Linked DNA regions of Homo sapiens. The protein of the gene in region 2 interacts with the protein of the main gene of each other region in a pairwise test. Each region holds a gene or a part of one and is shown on either strand. Other genes may lie near its edges.

The links. The genes of interacting proteins can lie anywhere in the genome.
Region 1: the proteins of PTPN21 (region 2) and CWC22 interact in binary tests that used the Homo sapiens proteins (3 or more experiments, as listed by UniProt).

The regions. Positions count from the first base shown.
Region 1 is NC_000002.12:179,951,527-179,955,304, reverse strand, and holds part of CWC22 (pre-mRNA-splicing factor CWC22 homolog), read left to right. Parts: intron 1-270; coding exon 271-348; intron 349-947; coding exon 948-1,100; intron 1,101-2,706; coding exon 2,707-2,834; intron 2,835-3,778. UniProt on the Homo sapiens protein: Required for pre-mRNA splicing as component of the spliceosome. As a component of the minor spliceosome, involved in the splicing of U12-type introns in pre-mRNAs. Promotes exon-junction complex (EJC) assembly.
Region 2 is NC_000014.9:88,544,789-88,548,566, reverse strand, and holds part of PTPN21 (tyrosine-protein phosphatase non-receptor type 21), read left to right. Parts: intron 1-3,778.

The DNA.
Region 1 (3,778 bases), on a different chromosome or scaffold from region 2:
TTTTCTTGATGTGGTTCATACTTATCATGAATTTAGAATTTTATAATTAATGTAATTAGCATAAATGACTGTGGAAGCTGTCAGCCAGACCCAAGCCTGTAAAAAATGATGAGTTTAACATAGATTGAGGTTTTTATTTTATTTACAAAATTTTTGAACTGTTTTAAACCCTTATTTAAAAATGCAGGCAGTCACTATCATACTGGTAAATTATACAATATTTAGTCTCTTTGTGTTTTGAATCATTAATGTATTTTTTTTCCCAAATAGAAAGAACTCTGCAACATGATACTTGATTGCTGTGCCCAACAGAGGACATACGAAAAATTTTTTGGCTTATTAGCTGGGGTGAGTTCCAGCCTCTACTGAGGGAATTCTTAAAACGAATATTGTAAATTAATGATTTCTGCTTTATGGTCTGGTCTCATTTAAAAACATATTACCACTTTTGCTAAAAGCAAATTATTCTCTCCTTCCTCAGGTTTCCCACTCTCTTCACCTTCCTCTTTTTCTACTTCATTTTTGCAGTGCTTTAACTTTGCATATCACTTTTCCAGAGCTTTTTGGAATTTTCCATGATTTGTAATGATTTCCCAATAGACGACAAGTAAATGCTGTCTTTTCAAAATCTCAAAGCAGTGTCTAAAGTCAAGTACATGTTCAGGCAGCACAATTAAAGCATGATCTAAAATATTTCTTTAAGCTCTACCCTCATGTGATCACCTACATGTATGATTTTGTTTTAACATGTAAATCTCAGGTAATTAGAAACCATATATATTAACTTCTTTTTTGAGCATCATATGGCACAAAAGGATTTAGTGATATATGCTCTTTGAAAATATAAAGCATATTAATAAAGTTTTGATTCAGTAAATTTAGGATTTAATATGCTCATAATTGTATTAACATTCAATTTTTAATGGTACTGATTTTTTATTTATTAGCGATTTTGCATGCTAAAGAAAGAGTACATGGAATCCTTTGAAGGTATATTCAAAGAACAGTATGATACCATCCATCGCTTGGAAACAAACAAGTTGCGAAATGTTGCTAAGATGTTTGCTCACCTTTTATACACTGATTCACTTCCATGGAGTGTAAGTACATGGGTCAATATTTATACTTCCTTCCTAATTCCCTGTTCTCAAATAGATTTTCGTATAAGCTAGCCATATTTATCCTATTATGAAATGTGCTTTAAAATGAAATGTGTAGAACTGCTGTCTTTGAGATTATCATCATGTTATAAGGAATCAGAAAGCTAGGTAAATAATATACAAGAAATACTATCTTTGTATTATATTAACAGTCCAAACATGCCAGTGTTTCGATAGTGATGGCTAGGAGTGTCTTCAGGAAAAGTACTGCAGATTTTCATCTTCTCTGTGTACACACACGTGCATGCACACTCACATCCACATATGCCACTATTTTGGTGGTAAATGTGTCTCTGAATTACTCTCCCTTGATTCCTGAGGGAATAACTCTCCATGGTTCTCTTGTTGGGTTTGAGAAAAAATGATTGTTCTAGAAGGATGTGTTCTTTTTAGCAGACATTGAAGTTGGGTAAGCTATAGAGAGGATATCCTATAGTCATAGAACAAAGAAAGATATATTCTTGATAGGGAAATGTGCACTGGATTGAAATTTGAAAGGCGTTCATTAAGCTGGCATTGATTTTACAGCTGTTTTTCAACCAGTGTTAGTTAGCCACCACTTATATACTGAGTCATTGAGAGAGGTGCTGTGTATTCAGAGTGAATTATACATGGCCCCTCCTTTCAAGAGGGTTACAGTATAAGACCAGAGGTAAGATATGCCCATAGCAATGATACAAAATAAAAAGTCTTAGATTCTAAGAAAAGCAAAATTACTAAAGGAATTTGAAAGAAAGAAAGAGAGAAGGATGAGAAATTACATCCAGGAGGAAAGAACAGGATTATCTTGTAGAATGCCATCCTACTAATGGTAGAATGAGGCAATATCTCAAACTTAAAAACATTGGTTAGATTTTTATAGTACTTTAAGTACCAAGTATGTCCAGCTACATTAATAGGCATTCGTAATCTAACCTAGGAGACTAATTGTAATAATTTTTGACTTCTTTTTTCCCCTCTTTGAGAAAATGAAGTGAGAATTTTAAACAATTAACCAACTAATGGGCCCCCCAAACACATAACCCATAAAAACTAGAGGTTACTTTTATTTTTATTTTCCCTAAAAATATTTCTTTAGGCATTTCAGTTTTTAAGCCACAGTCTTAATATTCAGAATAAACCATTATACTTTCTGTCTTTTTTTAAATCGTATGTTATGTGTGCTAAACAAAATTGTAGCCTAATGTGCTAAGTGGCATTTTGCCCCAAACCTTCATATACACCACATTTTGATGAGTAAGGTTTAGGAGCTAGTAATCTTTACCATTATATGCTCAAGAGAGGATATCTTCCCTGCTATAAAAAGCACATTACTCAAAACAGAGAATGAAATCTATTTCTGTCGCATCTTAACATTTTGAAAGTTAGTATAGAGAAGTAGTTTTAAACTTTATGTCAGCATAAGGGGAGATATTCAGAGATAACTCTGGTTGAAGATGGGAATAAATAGTAATTTTGAGAAACACTTAAACCTACAAATATTGGTCACTATGTCCTGTCTTTTATAAATTAAAATATACTTGTCTTTTTTTATTTTAATTTTCAGGTTCTTGAATGTATAAAACTGAGTGAAGAAACCACTACATCATCCAGTAGAATTTTTGTCAAAATATTTTTCCAGGAACTGTGTGAATACATGGGTCTTCCTAAACTTAATGCAAGATTAAAGGATGAGTAAGTTTGCCATTAAGCACTTTTTATTCTTATTGACCTCTGGTTTTCTCCCATTGTAGCAGACATAAGCCCATCCGAGACTGTAAAAACAAGAGCTAAGCCCCCTGAGACTTTCTTCATCCATTAATCACTGTGAATTTCATGTTATGTCACACAGGACAACATGCAACTTTTAGTGGTGGTTTTTAGTTTAAGTGGAGTTCAAATTAATGCCTTTTTAGATTTTCTTAGAAAATACAGAATTGTTTTTGTATGCTCACTTGAATTCTCCAGTGATATTTATAATTTTATTTTCTTTTTACCCTAATTTTAAGCCTTAGAATGATAACTAATATTATCAGTGGACAGTTTTGAGTATATATTTCATCTATTAATAATTGTTCAAAATATTACATAGAACTAGAGCCTTATTTCAGGATTATTATGTAATCCCCTCTCACCTTTCTTATTTCCTGTTTGTTCAGATTGCCACTTAGGTTGACTTCTACTCCATTGACACTACTGAAATCATCCTTTCAGATTTCTCAGTGACCACCTGCCATATTCAGTTGTCTTTCTCAGGCTGCATGCCTCTTCACTTCTCTGCCTCACTTATGCAGTTGACTACCTACTCACTGTGGCTCCATACTTTCTTCTCACTTCCTCTCTCAGTCTTCTCCTCAGCCTGCCTCTTCAGTGTTCCTGGGTTCCACACACTGTCTCTGGACTATTCCATCCACTTCTCTTGGCTTCATATACTTACTTATTTGGTCCCTGTCTACTTGACCAGGCTCGTCTTCTCTCTCTTCAGCAAGCTGCACTCCAGCCATACCAACACTGCCAAGCTTGTTAAACATATCTGGCTCTTTCATGCTTCCTTACCTCAGTTTCCACTGCTGGCATTCTCCTGTCTTATTGATCTATCTGGGAAACTCTTAATCATTCTTCTTATATTGTACCTTTTT
Region 2 (3,778 bases):
AAAACAGGCATGATGCATGCTGTGATAAGGGAAGTAGAGGGTGTGCTATAGGCCAGAGGGAGGTGCAGCAAAGGGAAGGCTGCTCAGGGAATTTGATTCTGAGCTGTGACCTGAGGATGGGGCAAGGGAGTCCTATCAAGGGCTGGAGGAGTTCCAACAAAGAGAACTGCACAGGACCAAAGACGCAGAGGAAGCTGGTCTGCCTGAAGCCTGAAGTGCGTGGAGGAAAGGCCGACTGTAAGGGCCACACAATGAGGATTTTTTGTTAAAGGATTTAGATTTATCCTGAGGGTAGTGGGGAAGTTAATGAAGGGTGTAAACAGGTGTGGTACGATTGTTTCTGTGAAGAGTGAGCCCTTTGGAGAATGATTTGAGGGGAGTGGTTCAGGTACAGATGGTAGCCACCTGGAGTTGGATAGGGTTGGAGAGAGGTGGTTGGAATCTGGATCAGGACCTACCGAGTAATAGAGAAGGGTTAGCATGGGTCCTGGTTGATATTCAGGTTTTCAGTAGATGGTGGGGCTATAACAGAGAGGAAATGTGAAAGGAAGTGCAGATCTATTAGGGGCAAGGAGGAGCGTGTGGTGAGTTCAGTTTTAGAAATACTGAGTTTGAGGTGCCAGTTGGAGGTTTTGAATAGACAGATGGATCTGCTGATCTGGAGTTCAGGCATGAGATCCAGGTTAGAGGGAAGATATTGGGAAGTATCAGCCTAAGTGAGTTCATTAAAGCCAGAAGATGGTATGAGGCTCTCCAGGGGAGAAAAAGAGGACATCGCAGACCCCTCATGGTAGATTAGAGGAGGGGAAAGTGTTGGAAGGAAACTGAGATGAAACTGCCGAAGAAGAAGAAAGAAAACCAGAACAGCAGGCCTCAGTAACCAGTCCCTGCTTACTTGCATTTATTCTTTTTTAGGGATGAGGTCTCACTCCATCACCCAGGCTGGAGTACAGTGGCACCGTCATAGCTCAATGCATCCTCAAACACCTAGGCTCAAGTGATCCTTTTGCCTTAGCCTGCCAAGAGCTGGGACTACAGGTACACTCCACCACACCCAGCTAATTTTTTTTTTAACTTGTGTTTTTGAGATGGAGTCTTGCTATGTCGCCCAGGCTGGTCTGGGAGTTGTTTCCTCTAGTTATCTTCCTGCCTCAACTTTGTGAGTAGGTGGGATTACAGGCGTGTGCCACCTTGCCTGGCTTAGTGGCTTATATTCTATTTATTTATTTATTTATTTACTTTGGTTGCTTCGACTTTTTTTTTTTTTTTCCTATTATGGTTTCTTCTTCCTGTAATTTTCTTCCTCGTGCACCAGGTCTGTCTATAACGCCTAGAGAGTCAGCTTCTTGAGGAACTGTGGTTTATTTATTTTTATACCAGGTGTGGAATGTGTTCAGTAAATACAGGGAGAACTGAACCCACAGGCATTGCCTTCCTTCTGTTAATAAGTCCAGAGAAATTGCCATCCCTTGTTAGAAGTTATCAGTCTCAGGGAACAAGTAACTTTATATAGCTGTGGGTATATTTTGAGCCTGATTTTTAACAGAAGAGGAAACAGGCATGGTCCCTAGAAAATGTTTTGCCTGTGGAGAGTCTGTCCCACAATTTCCAACATAAATGTAACAGTCATGGGTAGAAAGTTTGTATAGCAAACTTTTTCTTTGAAAGCCCCAGAAGCTCTGCTCTGTAGCATATAAACAGATGGCTCAGGCATCAGGCCTAATCTTAACAAATGACTGTTCAGAAATAATCTGAGTGGGGTCACACCTGTTTCTAGTTTGTACATATAGTCTCTGTGTGATTCATACCAAGAAATATCAGTATGTTGGTTTCTTGCACTGTTCTCCCACCAAGCAAATCTGGAATTATCGCATATAGATTTGGGTGGAAAACTTTGCTACTGTCCAAATATAAATGGAGGGAAAAGTCCCTCTTGCTTAATTGAATACCATTTCACTTCTATAATGACAATTTTTTTTTTTTTTTTTTTTGAGATGGAGTTTCACTCTTTTGCCCAGGCTGGAGTACAATGGCGCGATCTCGGTTCACTGCAACCTCTGCCTCCCGGGTCCAAGCGATTCTCCTGCCTTAGCCTCCCCAGTAGCTGGGATTACAGGTGCCTACCACCATGCCCGGCTAATTTTTGTATTTTTGTATTTTTTTTTTTTTTAAGTAGAGATGGGGTTTTATCATGTTGGCCAGGCTGGTCTTGAACTCCTGACCTCAGGTGATCTGTCCACCTTGGCCTCCCAAAGTGCTGGGATTACAGGAGTGAGCCAACGTGCCCGGGCCTATAATGACAGTTACAAGGGCCGCACAATAGTATAACACTATACCCAGGGGTTTCAGCTATATCAGTAGTGTTTCTTACACTGGGTATATGGGTATTTTTTTTGTTTGTATTTTTAGCTGTCATATTTTTACAAGTGTCTAAGATATTTTGTATTAAATTAAAAGCAACGTGGTTAATATACATGTATCCAATGTAGTTAACTTAGGTTGCTAACTTTCTTTTAAATTCACCATATTTGAACTACAGAAAGTAACTTCTTTTTTTTTTTTTTTTTTTTTATTTGAGACAGAGTCTCGCTCTATCGCCCAGGCTGGAGTGCAGTGGCGCGATCTCGGCTCACTGCAACCTCCGTCTCCCAGGTTCATGCCATTCTCCTGTCTCAGTCTCCCAGGTTCATGCCATTCTTCTGTCTCAGCCTCCCAAGTAACTGGGACTATAGGCGCATGCCACCACGCCCGGCTAATTTTGTATTTTTAGTAGAGATGGGGTTTCACCGTGTTAGCCAGGATGGTCTCGATCTCCTGACCTCATGATCCGTCTGCCTCGGTCTCCCAAAGTGCTGGGATTACAGGCGTGAGCCAAAGTAACTTTTAAAAATGGGAAAATGAATTATTCCCTTAGGAAAATATTGCTGTTCGTTATAGCAGTAGTTTCTCAAAGCTGTTGAAATTCCCTGCCTATCATTCTTCTGAGTTTCAAAACATTTTTTCAAGAGAGGCTGTGAGTCCTTGTGGAATTTAAGGGGAGCTAGAAAATTTTCTCCAATTTTAAAAGCATATGCTGTAGAGGCTTGAAGGAGGTGGTGACACAAGTGGCCACCTGGGCATGGGCACTGCCTGGGGCATCACCTTGACGGAATCAGCACAATCCAGAGTGCAAGAGTCAGGCTCAAAAATCTCATGTCATGGGAAGACCTGATTTAATCTAGCTCGCTAAAAATGATGTGTAAAACCAGGACCCAAGTTTAGTAATTTATAAGCAGTAAGGAACTGCCAAGGGTCCCAGGTATGTGTGCCCTCTGCCTAGGCCAAGATTTTCCTATAGTTAGGGCACATGGGAACCAGAACAAACCAGAAGTTTCTTGGTGAACATGGAATCAGAAGAATGTTACCTTGAAAAAGTAGATATTTTCATAAGTCGGCCAGGCGCGGTGGCTCACGCGTGTAATCCCAGCACTTTGGGAGGCCGAGGTGGGCAGATCACCTGAGGTCAGGAGTTCAAGACCAGCCTGGCCTGGCCAACATGGTGAAACCCCATCTCTACTAAAAATACAAAAAAATTACCCATGCGTGATGGTGTATGCCTGTAGTCCCAACTACTTGGGAGGCTGAGACAGGAGAATCACTTGAATCCGAGAGACAGAGGTTGCAATGAGCCGAGACTGCGCCACTGTACTCCAGCCTGGGCGACAGAGTGAGACTCTGTCTCAAAAAAAAAGAAAAGAAAAGAAAAAGTACATATTTTTATAAGCAGAGAATTGCTGCC